Linked DNA regions of Homo sapiens. Each later gene encodes a partner of the first gene's protein in a complex. Each region holds a gene or a part of one and is shown on either strand. Other genes may lie near its edges.

Region 1 (7,003 bases):
GATGGCAGCTGGATGTAAGGCCTGATTTTGTCCTGGTAGTGTTTAATGGGAAACACCTGTAGAGAGAAGGGGGGCCCGTTTAGGGGGCTAGAAAAGCAAAGGCAGCCTCCCAAACCCCTGAGGGAGCTGAACAGAAGTTCTCAACCTGTGGGCTTAGGATGTGAGTAAGTTCCATTCACCTACTCCTTTCCTCTGCCACCTTACCTTACGCAGCCCCAGCTGCCCCTGACACCTTTAAAACCAGTAACACCTAAAGCTCTAGACTTGCAAATACCCAAAGGGTTACCCGCTTTCACACAGATGATTTGAAAGAACTGTCTCCTGTACATGTTCCCATCTTCTGTCAGCTCCTGAGAGCTAAGCAAACCCCCCACCCTCTGTGGCCCTTTCCTGTTTGCAGGCCACACTAGTTGAGTGGCTGATAGAAGGAAGCCCCTGGCCTGTCCAGGAGCTGAAAAGCAGTCCCTGGACGTGCATGTGCCTCCTGCAGACCCAAAGTGCTCAACACAGAAAGGGCACAGAATGTGGTGACTCTGCAGCCTCCAAGGGGAAGCAGGGGCCAGAGAACATGCAGAGCTGTCATTAATCAGAAGGAACAGATGACTTGGAGGGGGAGGCTGGGACAATGCAGCCTTAAGCAACCTGCCTACAGTCCGACTCAAGTGTAAGCAGCCTTGAGTTACAATTCTCACAGGAAGGGTATGGAATCCTGCGAATGGGTTTTCCACTTGTTTGTTTATCCCCCCACACCCGACCCCACCCCTAGAAATGAGTAGCATCTCCTCTCTTCTAGGAAGCTGGCTGGTCTCTTTAAAGGCCTTTTGTTCAGTCCAGTTACTCATATCCTAGACTCAACTGGAAACGGTGACACACGGGCTGTCACCATCTGGATTCAGCTATTATCTGCTCAGAGGAACTGGAAGGGGTTGCACAATGGCCAGACTCACCCCACCTCTAAGAGGCCTGGCTGCTCTGGCACCAGCTAGAAAAATCCCCTGCTGCCCCCTCCTCCCACCCCATCCCATCCCATCCCACCACACACACATACATGCTTGTCCCAGAACAGCTCTTAGCCCCAGTCATGGAGAAGAAAAGGTTTTTTTTTCCTCCCTATTAAACTGGGCTTGATCATGCGTCTGAAATTTCATTCGGGTTGGGCAGTAGGTGGCAGCAGCGAGCCCCGGGACGGGGTCGGGGTGTTGGGAGTGTCAGGTGAGTTGCGGAAAACCCAGAAGCGACTTAACTGGGGGGTGATCCTATCTTTCGGGTGAAAAGGAGCGGCCCGAGGGTGCTCTGGGGTGCCTCAAGCAGGGGTGCCACGCTCGCATAAAGTAGACTGTGGGAACGTTCTGCGTCTACCCGCGCAGGAGGAGGACCCGGCGGATCCTGTTTCTAGGAGCTGTGTCTCCTCCTCCTGGATGGGATCCCTATGTTCAAAGGAAAATCGCTGGCTGGAAAATAAAGTGAATCGAAGCGAGGGTTCCTGGCCGGTGTGGGCTTTTCAACATTTCTACTCCGAGCAGATTCCTCCGCCTCGGGTGGATGACTCTGGGACTGCTCCCTTGGGAGGGCGTGTTCTAGTCTCAGCGCGGATTCAATTCGGAATCCCCAAGGCAGGAGCCGGACACAGTCTTCCAGCCCCCTTACCACCTACAACTGAGCCCGGGTGCCGTGCAAGCCCGGCAAGAGAGCTGCCAGCTGCTCCAAGCTCCTAGGAGGCACCCACTAAAGGGCGTCCTTCCAGGACATTGGCGGGGGAGGGGGGGTGGAGAGCGAGGAGAATGAGAGAAGGGGAATGGCATGGCCCTGGAATCCATTTCAATTCCACAACTTATATGGAACGCCACGCGCTACACTGGGCGCTGAGGAAAGGAACAGATAGAGAAAGCCACTGAACACTGCACTTCCTCTAGGCGCCCCCATTATATCACTCCATGGGAAACCCCTCGATCCACAAAAACGTGAACCTGGTCAAATGGCGTCTTATCTGACCCAATCTACTGATCCGCCCTGTGCCCAGCCCAAGCGTTGGCCGGACCCCAAGCACCTTTGCCTACCACCCCGTCCCGCGCCCCCGACCCCAGCCGGGTCCTGGCCCGGGAGCGCCTACCTTGCAGCGCAGCTCGCGTCCAGTGTGGATGCACAGCGCCCGGGACACATGCTCGCGCTCGGCTAGGGGCAGCAGCAGGTAGTCGGCGATGCGGCTGGGCCCCGGCGCGCTCCCGGAGCCTCCGCCGGCCCCCGGAGCGGCAGGCGGGGGCTGCGGGCTGCAGGGCGAGCCGGGGGGGCTGAGGTAGTCCGGGGGGCTGGAGCACTCGGAGAGGCGCGGGCACTTGGCCGCCACAGCCGCCGCGTCGTCGGCGTCCAGCAGGCGTTTGGCCGGGACGCCTCGGGTGGCTGGGAAGAGCAGGGCCGGGCCGCGGGGCTGCGAGGCGCCGCTCATGGCAGAGCGCACCGGACCGACCCGCATCCCGTCCTGGGCCGGGGTGGCCCCGGCTTTTTAAGTCCCGGGATCCGCGCGGGAAGACGCTGCGGGTTTGGTGCCGGCTCCGCGACTTCTTCCAGCCGGCGGGATGGAGTTTGCAGACTGGTCTTGGCTCGGCCCCCACGAGGGGCAAAGCAGGAGCCACTCCCCGGCGCTCGCGTTGCACGCGGGGACCACGCTGGCTGTGCGTCCGGGAGGCGGAGGCCGGCTCGAGTCCCCGGACCCCCGCAGGCAAGGGCTCCCGGAGCCTCGCTGGGGGCGGCCGCCACTATTGTTGCCGAGGCTGCCGATAGTCCGGGAGGCAGAGGCGGCGGCGGCAGCGGTCAGCGATCCCGGGGTCCCGAGCCGCGAGGACAGGATTCAGCAGGCTCGGCGGAGCCACGAAGCAAATGCACTTCCCAAAGCGATGAGTCTCCAGCAAAAGCCGGGGGAACTTTTTCGCGGCGCTCGGGATCCTGAGCGCTCCTGGGCTCCGGGCGTGTATGAGAGCGAGCGAGACGCGCTCAGAGAGAGTGACTGTGAGTGAGTGTGAGCGCTGCACCGATCCCGGCCAGTGCACTCCTCCTTCTCCTTTTCCTCCACCTCCTCCGCCTCCTGGTGACTCACGCTGTATACACACACACTCACAGGCCGGGCTGTGTAAACAGTTGGGAAGCCGGGTTGTGCAATGAGGTGGCTGCGACGACTCCGGCCCCGCCGCCCAGCGAGCAGTCTCCGGAGCGGAGGGAGGAGACTGGGGGAAGGGGAGAGGGAGTAGGAGGTGGGGGGAATGGGGGTGGACTTAGGGCTGGGGATGCTCCGGGCAGCGCGCGCTCGGGCGCAGGTGGTGCGTCCCGGGCCGGCCTGGACGCGCGCACACGCCCCCAGGGCTGGGAGGGGCTGGGCAGGAGGCGGCGCGCGCGCCCTCCCGCAGGCCCCCAGCTCAGCGGAGAAGCCGAAGGAGGGGGCGGAGGAAAAGTTCCCGTGACGTAAGGGCCCGGGGAAGTGGGCGGGAGGGACGGGGCTGCGGGGAGCGAAGCGACCGCTGATTGGTGCGCGCGCCTCATTCACAGTAAGCACAATGGGCTGCGGGCGCGAGGCGGGAGCGCGCACCACGGTTCTCTGCACCCGCCGCTCGCTGCAGCCCCGCGGCGACGCCTTTCGCCCCGGGGATCCCCCCACCGCCCAGCGCCTGGGGAGCTCCGGTTGGAGCCGTGGGCGCCGCCGAGGCCCGGCTGCAGCCGGAGGAAGGAGGGGGATAGGGAGGTGATGAATTCCAGAATCAGTCATTCACCCCCACGCGGTAGTTCCGGGGAAGACCTGTGCGTGGTAGTGGATGTGGCTTTTTTTTTTCCCTTTTCCTGCCCCCTCCCAGCTCTAATCCCCAGCGTCTGTTCGCTTCCACAAATAGAACCTTCTGTTGGAGGAAATAAAAGCAAACACTGGGCCTTCTGCGCTGCCTCCACCTCCACGCCCCCCCAACCCCCCCGCGCCTGCCGCCCGCCCGGATTGCACGGAAATAGCTTCTCCAGGCTCCCGGGCCGCCCCTTCGCGGTGACTCGCAGAAAGAGCTTCCTGAGCCAGGGCCGGTGGGAAACAAAGGATGTGGGGAGCGGGCGGAAGGGGCCCACGTGGCTGCCGCCGGATTCCTACTCCCTCCCCAGCCTCCACACGCGCCGCAGGGTCTAGGGCCTGAGTGCCAACCTGGGTAGGTGGGTAGGCTGGTGGAAGTCATTCTGGCCACTGCCAGAGATACCGCCTGCACCCGGGCAGCCCTGCCTGGTGGTGCGCATGCATTCATTCCGTGTGATTTGGAAGAGCATCAAAGTTGCGCGTGAAACAACTTGGAATCTGTCATTTTTCTTTCTTGAGTGAACCAGGTCAGTTTGGAGTCCCTGGGCACCCAACAATATAACTATTATTAGAGAGCCCTTACTTGTCCTTCTGCTAAATACTTAATTTTCTAAAACCAGGTCGAGCCCCAGGAATAAATCATTTTCCTTATTAATTCTCCATTCATTCAACAAATACTAATTAAGCATCTACCAAGAGCTAAACGCTGGGAATTAGAAGGTGAAAATTAAAATAATAATAATAGCTAACATGAATCGAGGCCTACAATGTGTCGGACACTGTTCTTAGCACTTTATATGTATTACTTCAGTTTTCCAACCACACTATGGGGTTATTTTTTGCCCCATTTCACAGGGAAGAAACTGAAGCCTTAGAAGGATGAAGTTAGGCCAAGCGTGGTGGCTCACGCCTGTAATCCCAGCACTTTGGGAGGCTGAGGTGGGCAGATCACCTGAGGTCAGGAGTTCAAGACCAATCTGGCCAACATGGTGAAACCCCGTCTCTACTACAAGTACAAAAATTAGCTGGGTGTGGTGGCGCGCGCCTGTAATCCCAGCTGCTGGGGAGGCTGAGGTGGGAGAATCACTTGAACCTGGGAGACAGAGGTTGCAGTGAGCCGAGATCGTGCCACTGCACTCCAGCCTTGGGGAGAAAGCAAGACTTAGTCTCAAAAAATAAAAAATAATAATAATAATAATTTAAAAAAAGAACGAAAGATGAAGTTACTTGCTGCGGTTAAGTAGCTCATAAGGGGTGGTGCGGTCAAGCTCCTAAGCATTTATGGCGACTGGAAGGAGAGATTACAATTTGTAGGGGAAAACAGGAGTTAGGGAGGACTCTAGAAGGCATTTGACCTGGGAGATGTGCAGGGACTGTGAGGGAGTTGCTCAAGGGAGAGTATGAATGGTGGGAGGCCGGGCCAGACAAGGGGTGTGCGGAAGGGCAGGGCTAGCAGGCCAGAGAAACTACAAGGGTGGTGGGAGCTGAGCCTGCAGAGGTCTCCTGAGACAGTGTTGGGAAGGGCTTGAAAGCCATGTTGCACTTGGTCCTGTGCCCAGAGGAGAGCCCACCGAAGAGTTAGTTAGTTAGTTTGTTTGTTTGTTTGTTTGTTTGTTTGTTTTGAGACAGAGTCTCCCTCCATCGCCTAAGCTAGAGTGCAGTGACCCAATCTCGGCCCACTGCAACCTCTGCCTCCCGGGTTCAAGTGATTCTCCTGCCTCAGCCTCCCAGTAGCTGGGATTACAGGCGCCCGCCACCATGCCTGGGTAATTTTTTATTTGTAGTAGAGACGAGGTTTCACCATGTTGGCCAGGCCGGTCTTGAACTCCTGACTTTAAGTGATCCACCCACCTCAGCCTCCCAAAGTGCTGGGATTACAGGCTTGAGCCACCACGCCCGGCCCCACCTACATTTTTTTTGTCTTTGAAGATTATTCTGTGCCAGAATGTAAGATCCACTGAGCTGCCAGCACTTGAATGGCAAACTCAGCATGGCCCCTGAGCATCTTCCTCCCAGGTGTGTGCCTCCTTCTCTGCCTCTTCTGAGAGACAGGCATGCCACCATCCACCCAGCTCCGCCCACCCAGGGGCCAGGATCACAGGCACTCATCGTGGGTTCCCCTTTGAATCTGCCTTTTTCCTTTCTCCCACAGCCCACCCTAGACCTGTGAGCTCTCAGTGCCGGGCCCTACCCCGCACTGTTCAGCTCCCTGGGGCTGGCCCTCACCAGCTCTACTTCCCAGGCTCACTTGCCCATTGGCTTCCAGCCCAGTTTGCCCAGTGGGAGGCCCGGGAGGGAGATTAGAAGGCAGGAGGAAGAAGAGAATGCCCAGGCTACTATTTGCTTCAGGCAGCTGGCCACACCTCCTCTGGGGCTCCAGAGGAGACAGCCACTCCGCATGGCTGCTGCGATGTGCTCCCCAGATCCCGCTGCCCAACTGGAGGATCTGTTTCCCTGGCTGCTGGGAGTGCATATCAGGAGCTGTTTTGGAAATTGCCTTGACTGAGAAGAGCCACTTTGCCGGAGGTCACACTCCCTTCCCAAGGGTCCACATCCAGTGACTGCTGATCATGGAAGAATAAAGGTCCCCTTGTCCCAACTTGGGCCACCTGTCCAAGGCATCCCAGCTTCAGAGCTCCCAGATTTAGGCCTTCCTAAAATTGCATCACAGCCCAGCTTTTTCCTCTGCCCAATCCTGTTCCTTCCTCCCCCTCTTCCCACAGAATCCTCTTGCAGGCTGGCCTGCATCTCAGAGTCAGCTTCCTGGGGAGTTCAACCTGTGGCACCCCTTCTTCATGGTCCGAGCTCACTCCAGGGACTCTGGCTTCTGGGAGCAGGTGAAACCACCTTTGTCCCTCCAGCCGTAGGGTGGCAGCAGCTTCCAGATGTTGCTAATCTCTGGGTGGCCCCCAGCACCATGTTTTGTTCTGTTTTGTTTCTGCCCTTTCTATGCCTTTGTAACTAGTTTTCTACATAAATTCTATCCACTGAACTTCCTGGCCTGAGTTCCATTTTCCTGCCCAGACCCTGTCTAATAGAAACCTTCTCCCTTTCCCACGTTCGGCCCTCTCCCCACTCCCATAATCCTAGTTCACAACCTTCCCCTGGATTCCTGCAGTAAGTTCTCAATGGAGCCACTCATTCATCCCTTCAACAAACATTGAGCCCCTACTTGGTGTCAGCACC
Region 2 (7,026 bases), on another chromosome or scaffold:
TGGGAAAATGCCAAAGAATTTGAATGGATTGGACATTAATCCTTTTTGACCTGCAGCTTAACAGCTGCATGAACTCTTTCAGATGAGCTATCTCCACAGTTAACTTGGAAGCCTTCAAGGTAAACTACATAAAACACATGGAAAAATAAATTGGCTAATGCATAGCACAAATACATTTTTGGAATATATGTTGGAATCTTTCCACATTCTTATGAAAGTTTTAAGTATCCTTGTTTAGGATTTTAATCTGTTTTCTTCTTTCATCAATAAACACTGTTTATAATGATCAAGGTTACAGGACCTAAAGTCTTGCTCTTTCCTGCTGCTTCATCCATTTCTAGCCAATCATCTAGCGTCCAGATACTTTGTATTTTTAGAATTAAAGTAGTATACTGTCATAAAAAAGTAAGTTGTGATATTGCTAAAACTAAGAGGAAGCAAATGGCTAAGAAAGATCACGGAACAGGAGGATAGTTATGAGACACTGTCAAAAAGAATTACATTAGATGGACACTACAACACTCACTAAGTAGCAAATATTTAAACGTGCAACCTTTCCCCTGCTGCTCAGCTAAGGCTTGACTAATATATGTGCTTCCATAATGCTTTTGTCTTTATATTAGGTAACTAGGCTACTTAACATAAGAAGTCAATGATGCTGAACAAAATCTTAGATTTGTCAGTGGGATCCTATGAGAACCTATGTAGTTTTGAGCTCTTGTAGGTATGCTGGCAATCCCAATTGGTGTAAAGGATAAACTTTTTGAAGAGTAAGGTGTAGCTTTTCAATTCATGACTTGACATGAGAGTAAGAGAGAGACTGAGAGAGTATAGAAAGCCACTTAAATCAGATATTCCAAGACCTTCTACCATCTTGCTTGAGGCTTCCAGAACATAACAAACACTGATCAGTTAAAAAACCTCGTTTTCATTTAAGCTCTCAGTGGTTCTCTAAAGAGGCTTTTCAAACAGAGAAACTGGCTGCCTAAAAAAGGAGACTACCATGTAAATTAGTGCAGTTCTTCTGCGTTAAGTTTGCTCATTTCACCTCTGTAGAATGTTTAGGCTAGGATTTGCTGCCTTGGCTGATGGATTATTCTCCACTTATGATGAGTCTAAGGAAGCTATGGCAAAATTAATGCTAAGTGGCAGGAGAAACACACACGTTATGTTAAAAAACTTTCAATATTTCTACCAAATCAGCAGAGAATATGTGGAAAAAACAGGTACTCTCAGAAACACGTACTCCACCAAAAGGGTGTTTTGTTTAGAAAGTTCACTGCTTATCTCAGGATTTATTTATCCAATGTATCATGTACAAGTGCTATATATGCATCAATCAATTTTCTTTCCTTTTTTTATGGCTAGGCTTCCTTGAATCACATCTATCAATTTTCAACTGAACACTAAAATAACTTTTTCTCCCCTTTGACAACTGAGGAAAAACCTACTTCTTAGGGGACAGAAGAAAGAGAACCATGAGGAAGAGAATAAAATATGACCAAGATATGTTTAAATCTGGTGATGTCTAAGCATCTTCTGCTATATCTTGCATCTCCTGCTATATTTTGGGCTCTATCTACTGAAAGCCCTGTGGGAGAGTTGTACTGGCATAACAGAAGCTAAACTGTGCTTAGCCCACAGTGAATGTTCACTAGTCTTTATCTGTTTTTCAAACTGACCATCTATTAATCCATCCAGCATCCATACAACCTCAATAAGCACTATCATCTTCTCCACAGATGCAAGCTACCTATTCTTTTCCCTTAAATCAAGCCATTTGTAAGGAGACACAGACCCATGATTTGGGATGATCTCTAAGGCTCAGTACAATGGTGTATTTCTATAATCCTGTTTCAGTCTAAAAATGGGCCTGAGTTTAAAATGGAGATATAGTAAATAGCTTACCTTAATTGTACCCTGACTGTTAGCAGCAATCAGCACATTGGACTCCTAGAAAAGAACAAGAGCTTTTAAAGTATAGAGAAGGATTTCCTGGAGAGCAATCCAAGAGATAATTTCCTCTTCATCCTTCTTTCTTCACTTCAATTCCTAAGACAATTGAATCTAATATGAAGATACAATTTTTTTTTTTTTTTTTTGAGACGGAGTCTTGCTCTGTTGCCCAGGCTGGAGTGCAATGGCGCGATCTTGGCTCACCACAACCTCCACTTCCTGGGTTCAAGCGATTCTCCTGCCTCAGCCTCCCGAGTAGCTGGGATTACAGGCATGCGCCACCAGCCCAGGTAATTTTTGTATTTTTAGTAGAGACGGGGATTCTCCATGTTGGTCAGGCTGGTCTCGAACTCCCAACCTCAGGTGATCTGCCCACCTCGGCCTCCCAAAGTGCTGGGATTACAGGCGTGAGCCACTGTGCCCAGTCGAAGAGACAATTTTAACATGTTTTTAACTGTATTTTAAACTTAAGATCCCATATTTTGAAGTGTAAGTTTTAATAAAAGAATAAAGTTAGAAGCAGAGTAGGACACTTTTGAATGTAAACAAAAATAAAAGGGAAAAAGATTGTCAATGGAAGAAAAGCCAAAAGAAACAAAGACTGAAATAAAATGAAAAAAAGAGTAAGTTGAGAAAAACAAAGTGAATAATTGCTTTCCCAGCACACTCCTTCTTCATTCATTTTCTCTCATAAAATACCAGTAATTGATGTAAAACCTGCCAACATCCTTGGCACAAATCTCTATGGATGGACATTTGGTATTAGGAAAACAAGAAAATGTGAATATTCATTTGGGAAAAAGGACTATCTTTCTTTTTAATTATTCTATCATTCAGCACATGCATTTTTAATAACCTTGGTAATTACTTGGATGAGAATATATGTGGTGAAGTATTTTTCTATTCTAAGCCAAGGAAAAAACATTTCTCTGGAAAGTAGGAAGAGTGGGAAAAGAAATGGACATGACTGAGTTTACTAGAGAGAATCTCAGAAAGTAGGAAGAATGGAGACATGCCTCCTGTAGGAAACTGGGCATCTAAAGGGCTCTGGAACTTGGATGTGTTGGAGTCTTTTGCTTTCCATGGTAGGCAGCTAAGAGGTGGTAAACAGACTTAAAATGTCATAGAGGTCAGGCCAGGTGGCAGAGAGAAAAACGAAGTCCAAATAACAGCTATGAGAAACAGATAAAGTGGTCTAATTTGAATGTAGGATAGGATCTACCTAAATATCCTTCAGGCTTCATGACAAAGCAATAATAAGAACAAAGAAAACTCTTGGCTTGTATGTTAGAAAAGTTACTTCAGCTAAGCTGAGTTAAACTTTAGTTTCTTTGACATATGCAAGTTGCGCTTTACAAACTCATACATTTCCATTTTTAAATTTTCCCTTTCATTTCTAATAAAGCTGCTCTTCAGAAATGTGCATCTTGTTACTAATGGCATACAAGAAAATAATAATGTCTTCCACTATTCCAGAATTTTTAATGGAATCAGAATACTCTTTGGAATTAGTCAGCAGCATCAAAGATTATAGGTGTATCAAGAAGAAATAAAGACATGTGGGCATGGGAATTGTTGATCTTTTCCTAGCTGAGGATTTTCCTTAAATTAGCAAATGTTCTTAAAAATAGTAACATGGGGGCTGGGCGCAGTGGCTCACACCTGTAATCCCAGCACTTTGGGAGGCAGAGGTGGGCAGATCATGAGGTCAGAAGATCGAGACCATCCTGGCTAATATGGTGTAATCCTGTCTCTACTAAAATACAAAAAATTAGCTTGGCGTGGTGGCGTGTGCCCGTAGTCCCAGCTAGGCAGGAGGCTGAGGCAGGGGAAGTGCTTGAACCTGGGAGGCACAGGTTGCAGTGAGCAAAGATTGCACCACTGCACTCCAGCCTGGCTGGAGAGACTCCAGCAAGGCTCCGTCTCAAAAAAAAAAAAAAAAAAAAAAAATGAACATGGGTAATACAATACTCACTATTAGAATTAACTTTGGAATATTATGGGCTATTTCTGGGACTTGAGGTATACAGAATCAACACTTCCATATTCGGGGTGGGGGGCTGGGGTGAGGGGAAAGGAAGATGAATTTGGGATTTATTTACTCTTTTAGTGACCTGAATGTAGAAAGTGGTTGGAGTAGGTTCTGGATGTCCTTTAGGAATATAATAACTTACCCTGAGTTGGTTAAGAGACAGCATTTCTATGCTGGCCTCAGAAAACAGCAGAAAGAGGCACTGTGTGGTGCAATATGGATTTCTTTCTAGCAGGAATTTTAAACAAGTTGTATGGTATCAGAACTGCCACTGGTGACCCACAAATAATTCTCCTGTAAACATCATCCAGAAAAGCAGTTGAAAATCTCACTGATCAACCTAGTTGCCATTCAAGGAGGGGACAGACTCTGGTCTGCAAGAAAGCTACTGCCAAGAGCCACCACCACTAAATGCTGCAGCCATCATGAACTGCTCCCTTTGCTATGAGAACAAATAATGACAGGACAATGAAAAATTTAAAGCCGAAAGCTCCATCTCCTTCTGCCATTTTGGGTCTAGTCACCTTTTAATATAGAGAAGGAATGCAGAGACCTGGTGAAGATGAGGATTCACTTGGGGATAAGCAGGGAGTCTACTTCTGGCAGTTACAGGGATTATAAATTACATAATTGAAACTTCTGACTTCTGATGGGAGCAAAACTAGGAAAATTGTAGTATATTATCTTACAGTATGAAAAATTAGCCCCAATATAAATAAGATAATCTAGTTGGATTACCACACAAGAGGAGTTTAAAATATGTACAATTACCACTCTAAACCCAAGAAGGACATCTGATAACTATCCAACATGAATAAACACTGTCTTACTGTAACCTCAGGATTACTATGGCATTAATATATGATGTCATATTAGATGCTATCCAAGGGTTAACTCTTAACACTATTTCCTGCAGAAACAGATAAATACTTTATGTGTTAAAAAAAAAAAAAGTCAACATACGAATTGAATGCCAGTTTGAATGGTCTTTTAGGACTGAAATTTAATGAAAGAAAAATAATGGCTTCATATCTCAGTACATCCTCTCTCCCCAAAGGTAGTATGATTACAAAAAAAGTTATTTAGAATTAAACTATCAGATAGCTAGATATTGGCTTAAGATAAATTATTTTTTTTTTGCATGCAACAGAAAAATAAGACCAGATATTTTACTTCTAGCATAGAGATGTGGAAGTGGTACGTACAAGGTTATTAATGTAAGTTTTTAATGGTTCTTGATTGTATTTTGGATGACTGGTAATTCCTAGTTGTAGCTGTGGTCTGCTAGGGCCTACTATAAATAAGTTCTAGCTCAACAGGTTATTTTTTACTTGCTAAATAAAATAAAAGTGTGAGTCAGTAATTCTTATTATTTTCTCCCTCTTTTTTGGAAACCGGCAGTTTTACTGCAGAACTCTCCTCAAGGCTAAGCTAATAAAATACCCAATATTTTTTTCTGACTATGAAGAGACTAAGAAAAGACAACAGAAAAATTAGCAAGTCTTTTATAAAAACAGAAGACATATAAACATGCACCAACTTGCTTAAGTCAGTGATACTACACTAACTTATACCAAAACATTTTTAGTAGCACACGTAGGCTAGTGAAGAAAACCTGCATCTACTAAAATAGTTTTATCTTTATTGACTTGCTTAAAAAGGGTCATTATAGACAATACATTAAAAATCTGGATGGCGCTGTGGGTCACACCTGTAATCCCAGCACTTTGGGAGGCCAAGGCAGGCGGATCACCTGAGGTCGGGAGTTTGAGACCAGCCTGACCAACATGGAGAAACCCCATCTCTACTAAAAATACAAAAAAAATTAGCCAGGCGTGGTGGCACATGCCTGTAATCCCAGCTACTTGGGAGGCTGAGACAGGAGAATCGCCTGAACCCGGGAGGTGGAGGCTATGGTGAGCCAAGATCATGCCACTGCACTACAGCCTGGCCAACAAGAGCAAAACTCCATCTCAAAAATAAATAAATAAATAAATATATAAAATATAATAAAATAAAATCCTGACAAGTTGAGAAATGAACAGTTATTCACTCAGCAACTGGTGGATTTATTCATAGAGATAGATGTAACTGATTTTAAATGTAAATTAATTTTAGTATAGGTATAAGTATATACAATGTATTTAAATATAAGATACGTGAATATATATATATATATATATATATAAAAACTTCCATTTTTGGCCATAACAGAGTAAACAGACTAAATTTGTTTTCCTACCATATACAACTGGAAAACTGAAAAAAATATGTAAGATACCACTGGACCACAGGCAGTACAGGACTGTGATCTTTGAGAGAAAAGAAACAAATGAAGTGAGTCCTATAATCACCCTGGTTTTCTACTGAGAGGCAATTTCTGGACCACAAAGCAGGTAAGGAGATGGACATAACAACAGATGAGACAAGTGAGGAATAAAACATCAAAAAATTTGGTAACACCTCCAAAATTACAACTGAAGCAGACAGGAAAAAAGCATGAGAGGAAAAAGAGATTAGCATCTCAGTGACCTATTGGGCAATATGCAACCTAATAAATGTATAATTGGAGTCCCAAAGAAGGAAGAGAAAAAAATATATGAAAACGTTAAGACTAAAATGTTTCAAATTTGTAAACTATAAACCCACAAATCTAAGAAGCTTAACAATTTCTGGCAGAAAGAAGCACAACACCACATCAAGGCACACCACAGTTACACTGCTGAAGACAAGAAACAGAGAAAATCTGTAGAAATGCCAAAGAAACAAAGACACATTACATAAAGAGAAAGATCGCCAATTTCCCATCAGCAAGAATGCAAGCCAGAAGACAATAGGACAGCATCTTTAAGATGACAAACAAGAGGCCAGGCGCAGTGGCTCACGCCTGTAATCCCAGCACTTTGGGAGGCCATGGCAGGCGGATCGCCTGAGGTCAGGAGTTTGAGAGCAGCCTGGCCAACATGGTGAAACCCCATCTCTACTAAAAATACAAAAATTAGCTGGGCGTGGTGGCAGGAGCCTGTAATCCCAGCTAC

What was found. Proteins that work in one complex are often made in the same cells at the same time.
Region 2: the proteins of TRIB1 (region 1) and COP1 are in contact, whole or in part, in a crystal structure (PDB 5IGQ), measured with the Homo sapiens proteins. Residues at the interface, in NP_079471.1 of Homo sapiens: Asp355, Gln356, Ile357, Val358, Pro359, Glu360, Tyr361; in NP_071902.2 of Homo sapiens: Ile423, Ser425, Val441, Lys472, Tyr491, Trp517, Asp534, Ala556, Asn557, Cys559, Ala576, Asp577, His578, Lys600, Ala601, Ser603, Thr618, Lys643, Asn644, Phe645, Phe699.

Annotation. Positions count from the first base shown.
Region 1 is NC_000008.11:125,426,370-125,433,372, reverse strand, and holds the start of TRIB1 (tribbles homolog 1), read right to left. Parts: upstream 3,016-7,003; 5' UTR 2,471-3,015; coding exon 2,111-2,470; intron 1,165-2,110; exon of another isoform or gene 1,049-1,164; intron 57-1,048; coding exon 1-56. UniProt on the Homo sapiens protein: Adapter protein involved in protein degradation by interacting with COP1 ubiquitin ligase. The COP1-binding motif is masked by autoinhibitory interactions with the protein kinase domain.
Region 2 is NC_000001.11:175,945,287-175,952,312, forward strand, and holds part of COP1 (E3 ubiquitin-protein ligase COP1), read right to left. Parts: intron 1,954-7,026; coding exon 1,909-1,953; intron 1-1,908. UniProt on the Homo sapiens protein: E3 ubiquitin-protein ligase that mediates ubiquitination and subsequent proteasomal degradation of target proteins.